Homo sapiens: one gene and its partners. The protein of the gene in region 2 purifies or fractionates together with the protein of the main gene of each other region. This does not show direct contact. Each region holds a gene or a part of one and is shown on either strand. Other genes may lie near its edges. The genes, in order: KL, MYO3B and CHLSN.

Region 1 (3,652 bases), on a different chromosome or scaffold from region 2:
ACAATTTTTAATAAAGGCATAAGTGGAGAGGTAAAATACATATTTCTGGTTTCAACGTGTCCATATTCTTTCTTGTAAATGGAATATTGCGCTTGCAGTCTGCTCTCACACAATATCTGGGAAGGAGTTTTAAAGAGTGAGGAAGAACAGTAAAGATTTTCCTAGGCAGATACGTTATGTGACCTTTGTTGATTTCCAGAGCACATAATATCCCAATTTCATCCAGTGGACAGGAAAAGAGAGGAAGAGGGAAAAGGTGGCCTCTCAAGTGCCTGACCTGGAAGCTGCACCTATCACTGTCCCTTGGGCAGAACTCAGTCACATGGTCAAAAGGAGTCTGCAAATAATTGTCCCCTGAGGAGCCGGGTGCTCAGTGAATGATTCTATTAAGTTGAAATCAGATGGGAACAGATCATTTAGGATAACCAGCAGGCTCTACCACATTGCCTAACTCCCAGGCATATTGTGAGAATTAAAAGCACCTTATATATGTCAACGTGTTTTGAAAAAATACAAAAAGCTCTACAAAAGTGAGCTATAAATTTATCATTAATAATAATAGTAATAATAGCAAAATACTTGAGAAATGGTCCTCTTGAGCTGTTTAGAAGGAATCATACAAATGCATTAGACATGGTAGCCTCACTTAACTACTTAATTTGCCTCTTCTTTGAAATTATTTCAATAGCATTTGACCAAAAACTATCAAATCATTTTTGAAATAACGTATTTTTACATAAAACACATTATCAAATATCTTTCTGGATCCAGCTTGGTGGTAAAAAGATACATACTAAAGTTTATGACTGATATAACTTTATATATTGACTAAACCAAAGATAAATATTGATTGAACTTTTGTGGCCCCAGTTTCAATAGATTTTTTTATTAACATTTTTTGTTTGAAGTACAGATGTCACGTCATCCATGAACCGGTATCATTATAGCTTGATAAAATACTCAAACTGAAAGCAGTGATGTACATTAATTTTAAATATAATGGTTAAGCAAATGTTATTTCCATATCTATAAGTGCATTTTATTTGATAATTAGAATGTTAGAATCAGAAGGAATTTGGAAAATCCCAGGTTACACTTCTCTCCAGGACGAACTCCTTACAGTGGCTCTCCTGGGGTCAGCTAGCTTTTGCTTGACCCTTTGAAGCAGGAGGAACTCAGTTCCACTCAAGTTGCCCCCTTGATTTTCTCTTTCATATTGAACCTGCTGCTGCACAGGACTCCTCCGTGACTGTCTCTTTGCCTTCCTAAATCTCAAAGAATAAAGCAAGTCACTTTTTGACAAGACATCTTTCACATATTTGAAAAGACATCTTTCACATATTTGAAAAGACCAGTACGTTTTGTTCTTCCTAGAATTTTCTCCTTCATGCTAATGTCTGCTCCAAGAAGACATGGAGGTGACTGGACATTTAGTCAGGAACATTTCTTGAGAGCTTACCCTGTGGCAGGCAGGTGCAATGTTGAATTCTGAGAATATGAATGTAACCTTTGAACAGGTGGCTCTGTCTTCTGACGTTTCAGGATAAGGTGGAGGAGAGGAGAGGGGAAAGTCGACCTATCTCCCCAGCGGGGAGGGTTTAGGGTTGTCTGTGGGACCTGCCTCTGTCTCATCATCCATCACCATTGTCCTGCTGATGGGTGCAGAGGACTGAGGACGAGTGGTTGGAGTTCTCCCTGTGCCGGACCCTGTAGAGAGTCCAGAGCCCTGGCTCCCAAAGGAGGCATATTTGTAGGGCTCTTTTCGTGAGGGTCCAGAGGACGGCTGCAAAGCTGCAGGGGAGGATGGGGGCATGGGAGGCAAGCCCGTTGCCCTGTCAGAGCCTCTTGGGGATGCTGCTCTTCCCCGCCTGTCCTCTCTTCTCTTTGATTTCTCATCATGTGGTCCTCTTTCCTCTGCCTTTTCCTCTCTTCGGTGTCCCAAGTTCTTCCATAGAGACCTGTGTCCCCTTGTTCCCATCAGGCCTTTATGCCAGCCCTGCACAGGTGCGGGGACAGTGGTAGGGGCGTCTCACTCCCGACTCAACTACATTCTCCCAGAAATTGTCTGCAGTCAAACACAACTCAGCGTGGACATTGCTCACCAAAGGTATACTGCTTGGGCTGCACGAGAGATTCAGTTTTCTCCTATCTATCTGGCATGGGCTGTGAGGGGGCTCCTAACCTAGGGGGCCTTTTTACTCCTTCCTGGCCAGAGCTGCCATTTCCAAGTTTCTGCACTGTCAGAAAAGAGGGATAAGGTAAGATTCCTGCCCTCATGTCACAGATTAGTAGGGGAGAGGTAATTGTCAAATAATTACAGTAAAATGTATAAATGCCTTAAGAGAAATAAGTACTTGCTTAGGAACCTATTTCAAGAAAGGAGAGATAGGTTAGCGTTTTGGGGAGGTAGTACGGGAGCAGTCAGGGAAAGCAATACTTGTAAGATCAGAGGCTGGCAATCTTTTTCTGTAGAGGGCTAAGTTTTGGACTTTGCAGATCCTACAGTGTCTGTTGCAACTATTACACAGTTCTGTGGTTGCAGCATGAATGCAGCCATGGGCAATGTGTTAATGAATGGGCACAGCTGTGTTTCAATAAAACTTTATTTACAAAAATAGGTAGTGGGCCCTGCTGCTGGGCTTGGCTTGCTGGGCACACAAAGTGAGAAGGGCATTGTGCCTTTCTAGGAAACATCCCTTGCAAAGTCAGTACAGGTGAGACAGTGTGGCCATTCCCACCACAGCATGAGGTCTTTTGAATGGCTGAAGCGTCAGGTGGGAAAGGATGAGGAGCTGAAGAAGAAAGCCTGGGAATTTCCAAGGCCTCTCTTAACATTTGCTGTGCAGAACCAAGCAGTGCCCCAGGTGTTCAGAGTAGGCTTCAGCGATTACATTTCTTGTTAGACACTGAATTTTGTTCATGCCGCCCAAGATTGCATTAACAATTTTGGCTGTCACCTTACCGCGGACTCAAATTAGTTTGCAGTCAGCTAAAACCTCTCAGGTTTTTTCCCCCCAGCTTGTGAATTGCTGTGAAGCCAAACATCCCTGTCATCTCTTTGGTAGTTTATTTTCAAACTTTCAATCTTATTAAATTTCATCTCCAATGTGCAAAGATAAGAGGAAGTTTACCGCTGATGGTGGTTTATTCTTTAAAACTGGACATCAGCTAAATGTGTTAAGGTAATCCGTTAGAGGAATGTTGGTACGCTTATACAGTGGAATACTAATTGGTTATTAAAATGTTGATGTATGATTATTAAAAGGCAGCCCATGTTATGTCTCTTCTGTATGAATAAGTATGTAAAAAGTATGTAAAGATTACTGTATAGTTCATGGGTGGGACTGGGCTCTCTCTAGCCTCTGTCCTTCATTCTCCCTGCCAGTGCCTTTTCCCTTGCAGTGTCCCTTCCCTGGCTGCATACTCAAGACTGGATTTGCCCAGCCAAACCCCATTAACTCACAGAAGCAAGAGGAAAAAAATAAATTCTTATTAGTTCAATTCTCCAAATTGGGGGCGGTCTATTTCACAGCAATAGGTAACTGACGTAAAAGGAAAGGAAACAATGAAGTAATTCCAGAAAATTTCCTATAGCTGGAGGACATGCATTTTCATATTGAATGGGAAGAATGGGGTGGGGGGGTCATACCTC
Region 2 (2,912 bases):
TCTCCTCAGGGATACAGTCCACTGGTGACAGAGATTTGTAATATTCATCTTCCCCATCAAGTACTTTGATTTGGCTGCAACAAAGAAAACAACAGGATTTTCAACAAAAAATAAAACAAATGTTACAATCATCACTGGGGCAGCTAAAGTCATGTGAGTAGCTGGAACAGGGTTGGGCTCCAACACTGGAGGGGAAGGACAGCTCCTAGGTAGCTCAGGGTCTCCCAGTACAGAGGTACCAGGGTCTGATCTACAAAGCCCTTCACCTTTGGGTCGTGCACTGATAGTGGGTCCAGTTTTGTGGTGTCTGGAAGTTGTGGTCGTATTGCAACTTGCTTTATGGGATTGAACTCTGTCTCCATCTGGTTCCCTCTAGATGAGAAAGTTTTCCTCCTGACCTCCCCCAATTCTCTAATTATTACCATTATGTACTTCATTGCTGTTCTCAATTGAGATGCTAACTATCAAATGAACGACAAATTCCTTACTATCCTCTATCTAACCAGTTGGGCATGTTTCTCCTTGTCCATGTTTTTAAGGCCCAGGGGTAGGATAATGTGGAGGAAGTGGCCTATTTGTACTTCGTAGAGTGCTCTTATTTGTGGAAGGAGAATTTTATATAACCCACTACATGTCTCTAATTATGAAGAAAGTACAATTCCCTGGAATAATTATGAGAAATAACATTTGCCCTTAGGTGACAATTTCAACCTTTTTGGACAGAATAGATTCAAGTTTTGTATACTTGCTACTGTGAAAAGTAATTTCCAATGTCAATAAGAGTGGCAATATCTGGATTGCATATTTTTAGAAGCCTCTCTGGAAAGTTTTGCATTTTCTGTAATATCACAAAGGACCCCTTCTGTTTACAGTTGCTTAGAACTAAGAAGACAGATATTTACCCAAGTTTTCTTGGCTTCCTCTTGCTCCCTTGATATTCTAGAGTTCCCTGTGGAGAGGGCCAAGAACACACAGTCAAAGCAAAGCAGCAAGTCGTTAATTTTTAATTCAAAGTGATTTTGTGTTGAATGCAAGCAGATGCTGATAATATCAGAAGTCACAGCATAATTTTTTTTGATCAAAGGGCTCAAGTGAGCCTGATGAAGCATGCATCTTGCTCGTCTTTGATAAACCACATCAATTATTCACCGTGAAGGCAGACATCCTGACATGAAAGCAACAGATAAAGAGCCTAAGCACATGTTCAAGACGAGAGCATGAGGGTGGGGGTGGGGCTGCAGGGGCTGGAACAGGTAGTAATAACAGAATTATTAACTGGAAACAAAGCCAGTGAAACAGCTTTACGGCCACTTTGAACTCACATTTAACTGGTTATAGTACATGGTGTCCTCAGGGCTACTCAGCATTTTGGGCTGCTGACATCGTCGGCGAGGTGTTCGATGCTTCTGTGCAAGACCATTTTCTGAACCTGAAAAAAGAGCAAAACTTTGCTGTAAACTGTCCGAGGTGTTGGGAAAATTAAGTGAAAAATGGCTCTTCACATAAATGCACTTAGTAGAAACTGTGTCCTATTTTAATGGGCATATTAAAAGCTTTACTAATATTAGGAGAAATGCCATCCTAAAAAATACACACAGATTGCTAAGTGTAAACAAGGGCCACTGTCTGTAACTTTGCATTCAGCTTTCTGATCTGAATCAGCAGTCCAGGGTGACAGAAAGCAAGTTGTTGTTTCCACATTGGTGAAGTATAAGTTGGTGGTCAGCATTTATAGAGTAGGGTGCCCTTAGTGGCATGACTATGTTAGGACAACCAAAGTAATCTGGGATTGTTTGCACCACATCCTGCAATGAGAGTTCAAAAACATCTGGAGCACACATACTCTTGGGGAGGTGAGAAGCAAACCTTTTGGTGGGATACATTTTGTCGGGGGGGAAATGGCTTGAGCTAAAATTTACTGAAATGCTTTGAACAATACCACTGATGCATGCAGTCTTTGGAGGTAGTGTAAAAGAGAAGGAGAAAGGATGATTGCACGATTACATGAAGCAGTCTCTCCCTGTTTGTCCTGATTTCAGAACCCTGGACCAAGAGTGCCCTGGAGATTAAGAAACCACGAGTCAGAAGAAGTCATAATTCATGGCTGGGCGCAGTGGGAGGCTGAGGCGGGTGGATCATGAGGTCAGGAGTTCGAGACCAGCCTAGCCAACATGGTGAAACCCCGTCTCTACTAAAAATACAAAAATTAGCTGGGTGTGGAGGTGCACACCTGTGATCCCAGCTACTCGGGAGGCTGAGACAGGAGAATAGCTTGAACCCGGGAGGTGGAAGTTGCAGTGAGCCAAGATCGTGCCACTGCACTCCAGCCTGGGCAACAGGGCAAGACTCCATCTCAAAAAAAAAAAAAAAAAAAAAAAAAAAAAGTCATAATTCATTTCCCTTCCAAGCAAATGATTTTTTGGATCTACTGTCCTTTTGGCTCTATATCTGAATCAGGATTCAGCAGTTCTAATTTCTTGGCAACACACACACAGACACACACACCTCTGTCATAGAATATTGTCCATGAATGTTGTTGTTTAGAGAAAAGCTATCACTATCCTGGAGGACAGAGTGTTTATTATAAACTATTCATTAAAAAGAGTTGGAGATTTTACTTGGTATCATATTTTAACTTCACCAGAGATTTCCACGATTTAAAAAAATTCTGGGGGAATTTTTAAAGTAGAGAGTGACTTAGCAAGGTCCATTATTAATACCAAAATATTTGTTCCCTAAGTATAAAGTTTTGTATCTTGATTTTTCTTGAATTGGGACAAATCTATATTTGGACAAGACTATCAGAACCCAGCCTGGCCAACATGGTGAAACCCCATCTCTACTAAAAATACAAAAATTAGCTGGGCGTGGTGGCGGGCGCCTGTAGTCCCAGCTGCTTGAGAGGCTGAGGC
Region 3 (3,652 bases), on a different chromosome or scaffold from region 2:
GGCGCAGAGTGGAGCCGGGCACCCCCAAGGCCCCTGGCTCTCCGGGCGCAGCACCCTCACTCCAGCTGCCCCTGCGTCTTCTGTTGAGGCCCAGCACAGAAAGCAGGAGTTTGGAAAAGTTAAAGGTGCACCGGCCAGTGTCAGGCACAGCCCAGGGCAGTGGGTGGCACTCCTGAGCTTCCCACCTCGTGGCCACAGTGGCTCCCTCGGGGACACGGGAATTGGGCTGTGACTCCTGCCAGGTCGGGAGCGCTGGTGGCCAGAAGCAAGAGTGGGTGTGAAGGAAGCTGTTTCCGCAGCATCCAGGCTGGTGCCTGACACAAGAAGCAGCCCTGCACCGGGCGCTCAGGAAGCCTGCGGGAAACAGCTGGGCCTGCGGGTCCCCGGCTTGGCCCCGATATGGGACGGCCTGGGTTCCCCTCGCCATCCACCCCAGGCCAGCGCCCACGTTGCTGTTGCCCACAGCCTTGGCCCCGTCCTCACCACTCTGGCCACCAACCTGGGACCCTACCACAGGGCCCTGCCCACCTGCTCAGGGCCTGTCCGGGTGCCCCACGCATGTGGGCTGACAGACCCTCGGCCACCGCGGCGGCCCCTGTGCAGCCCTAACAGTGTTATGGACTTTGGCCCGTGTGATCAGCCGTGGACTGCGTGGCCCATGGAGTGGGGGCCGAGGCTGGGCCTGTGCCAGGAGGGTTTTTACCTTTCAGGGCCAGTTGTTGTGCCTGCCCCGTTGGCGGCTGTGGGCGGCTGTGGGCCTAGGAGGTGAGCATGGAGCTGGTTGGAGCCGGTCAGTCACCAGGCTCCCCTGGGGGTGTCCACATCCCCACCATGAAAATCTTGCTCCCCAGAGCCCTGCGTGCCTGGCCTGGTGGGTCTCAGAGCTTCCTGCCTGTGTGTGTGGGCGGCCCAGGCCTTCCCACCGGGACTCTTCAGCCTCTCTGTGCCAGGCATCTGCCAGGGACGGTGCTCCTCGTCCCCCAGGCCCTGTCTCTTGCTGCGGACCCCTGGCAGGCTCTAGGGGTGTGGCTGTGGGTGTGTTGGCGTGTGTGTATGGTGTTTGTGGGTGTCTGTGGGCGTGTGTGGGTATCTGTGGGTGTCTGGGTGTGTGGGCATCTGTGGGTGTCTCTGGGTGTGTTTGGGTATCTGGGTGTTTGTGGGTGTCTGGGTGTGTATCTGGGTGTGGGCGTGTGTGGCTGTGGGTATGTTGGGATGGTGTGTGGATGTGTTTGGGTGTGTTTGGGTATCTGGGTGTTTGTGGGTGTCTGCAGGTGTCTGGGTGTGGGTGTGTCAGGGTGTCTGGGCGTGTGAAGGTGTGTCTGGGTGTGGGTGTGTCTGGGTGTCTGTGGGCGTGTTTGGGTGTGTGGGTGTTTCTGGGTGTCTGTGGGTGTTTGGGTATCTGTGGGTGTCTGGGTGTCTGTGGATTTGTTGGATGTGTGTGGGTGTCGGTGTGTGTGGTTGTATGTGGGTGTGTGGCATGTGGGGGTGTCTGGGCGTGTGGGTGTTGGTCTATGTGTGGGTATCTGGGTGTGGGTGTGTTGGGTATGGGTGGGTGGGTATGTGGGTGTCTGTGGGTGTGGGTATGTGTCCGTGTCTGTGGGTGTGGGTGGGTGAGTGTGGGTGTATGGTGGGTGTGGGTGGGTGTGGGTCGGTGTGGGTACATGGGTGAGGGTTGGGGGCTGTGTTTGGCTGTAGGGGTGAAGTCTGTGAATGTGTGTGTCTGTGTCGGGGGGGTGGGTTGCATATATATCTGTATGTAGGGGGGCTTGCCTCACTCTTCTTTGCTCTCCCTGGGGTGGGATGCGTAGGCGTGGGCTGTGCCCGGCCTCCCTTCCTGGAAGCTCCCGGTGGGCGCTGCCTGGTTGATTCCCACGCCCCTAGCTGTTTCCCTGGGCTCCTGGCCTTGCTCGGAGTCTACACTGATGTTCTGACTTTTCCAAAAAAGACGAAGCATGTGGACAGCGGCTGGGGTCACCTCATGGTCACCCCGTGGCCCGGCTGCCCCGGCTTTGACGCTTTGCACCGTCCTCTTCTTTTGTTAATGAGGGGAGGGTGGGCAAGACGGAGGGCCTGTGCTTTCCTGGCAAGATGTGGCTGGGGACACATTGTCACAGCGGGCCCTCTCCCTCCCTTGGGGGTCTTGGCCCCCTCCCTGTCCCCAGCCTGCAGCCCAGGGGGAGCCAGGCAGCCAGTGACCTGCCAGAAAGCAGCAGGCCCCAGGCACCGTCCTCGGGATTTGGGTCGGGTCTGGGGCCAGCACCTGGCCTGTGTGATAACAGACACCAGCACACCTTCAGCCCTCCCTGGGGGCCGGCCCGGATCTTCCCACACTGTGTGGGGTGGGGCAGGACCTCACAGAGCCTCGGGAGCCGGGAGTCTGTGGGAGGTGGACCACGGGGGTGGGGAAGGGGCCTCTGGGCAGTTAATCCTGGCACCTGGCGCCTGCCCGCAGGACTGGCCATCCTCATGTGACCTGTCTGTCTCTTCGTCGTAGCACAGGCTTAGCAGGATGGTGTCGGCTGGGGCCAGACCCAGTGCTTGGGGACAGAGCTTTTGGCCACTACTGAGGTGAGGGTGGGCTCGGGAAGCCCCAGGCAGCGCACCCGTCTCTGGATACCCTCCATCCCCGAAGCCTAATGTGTTCCTTGACTTTCAGGGCGAAGCTGTGCTCAGGCCCGGGCTGGACGCAGAGCCAGAGCTGTCCCCAGAGGAGCAGAGGGTCCTGGAAAGGAAGCTGAAAAAGGAACGGAAGAAAGAGGAGAGGCAGCGTCTGCGGGAGGCAGGCCTTGTGGCCCAGCACCCGCCTGCCAGGCGCTCGGGGGCCGAACTGGCCCTGGACTACCTCTGCAGGTGAGCGGCCCTGCCCCACGCGGTTCTGTCCCGGACGTGCGTCTCAACCCCTGCCTGAGGGGGTCGAAGCCTTCACTCGCACACACTGTGTGGAAGGTTCTAGAGCAGTGAGGTATGAGCGTTCATGCCAGGCCTGTGCTGCCGCCGCTGCCCTTTCTGTCTGAATGGCCCAGAGCCTTCAGGAACTTTCAGGGGCGGCAGCAGAGCCGCTGCCCGTGCAGGGGTTGCCTGGAACTGTGCTTTTAGAAATGGGTCTGATGGTGAACCTTGCCCCAGGTGTACGTCACCACAGGAAGAATCCACGGGCCTGGGTGCTGCTTGGACGTGGGGGTGAGGAGGAGGGAACTCGTGGTGGCCTTCAGCCCTCACTCACAGTGACAGGAGGCGCCACTGCCACCCAAGAGCGGGAAGACGGGGATTGTGGGGTGCTGGGCACAGGGTGCCATCTCCCTGGCTGCCTGCGGCGTGGCTGGGTGGATGGTGCCTGCGGCGTGGCTGGGTGGACGGTGCAGGATTGCAGGGGTCAGAGGCTTTGGCGTGGGCTCCACAGCCTTGCGGGCTGTGGCCACCTCCCCGGCGCTTACCAGCACAGGCTGCTGCCCGTTCCTGTCCGTCTCCCTGAGTGCTGACTGCACCTAGAATAAGGGGTGTCACGGCGTCCACGTGGCTGGCTTCCTCAGAGACAAGAACTGGGTCCCTGTGATGAAGTCACCCTGAGGGGCAGGGTGTCCTGTGGGGGCACTGGCCCTGCCTGGGAGGACAGGCTCCAGCCGCACCTCTGTGGGAGGCCCTCGGAGAGATG

What was found.
Region 1: the proteins of MYO3B (region 2) and KL purify together in Homo sapiens (affinity purification with mass spectrometry; one large-scale study listed by BioGRID and IntAct). This does not show direct contact.
Region 3: the proteins of MYO3B (region 2) and CHLSN purify together in Homo sapiens (affinity purification with mass spectrometry; one large-scale study listed by BioGRID and IntAct). This does not show direct contact.

The regions. Positions count from the first base shown.
Region 1 is NC_000013.11:33,022,811-33,026,462, forward strand, and holds part of KL (klotho precursor), read left to right. Parts: intron 1-3,652. UniProt on the Homo sapiens protein: May have weak glycosidase activity towards glucuronylated steroids. However, it lacks essential active site Glu residues at positions 239 and 872, suggesting it may be inactive as a glycosidase in vivo.
Region 2 is NC_000002.12:170,650,145-170,653,056, reverse strand, and holds part of MYO3B (myosin-IIIb), read right to left. Parts: intron 1,430-2,912; coding exon 1,323-1,429; intron 950-1,322; coding exon 903-949; intron 75-902; coding exon 1-74.
Region 3 is NC_000007.14:1,009,148-1,012,799, reverse strand, and holds part of CHLSN (protein cholesin), read left to right. Parts: intron 1-2,499; exon of another isoform or gene 2,500-2,568; intron 2,569-2,656; coding exon 2,657-2,850; intron 2,851-3,652. UniProt on the Homo sapiens protein: Hormone secreted from the intestine in response to cholesterol, where it acts to inhibit cholesterol synthesis in the liver and VLDL secretion,leading to a reduction in circulating cholesterol levels. Acts through binding to its receptor, GPR146.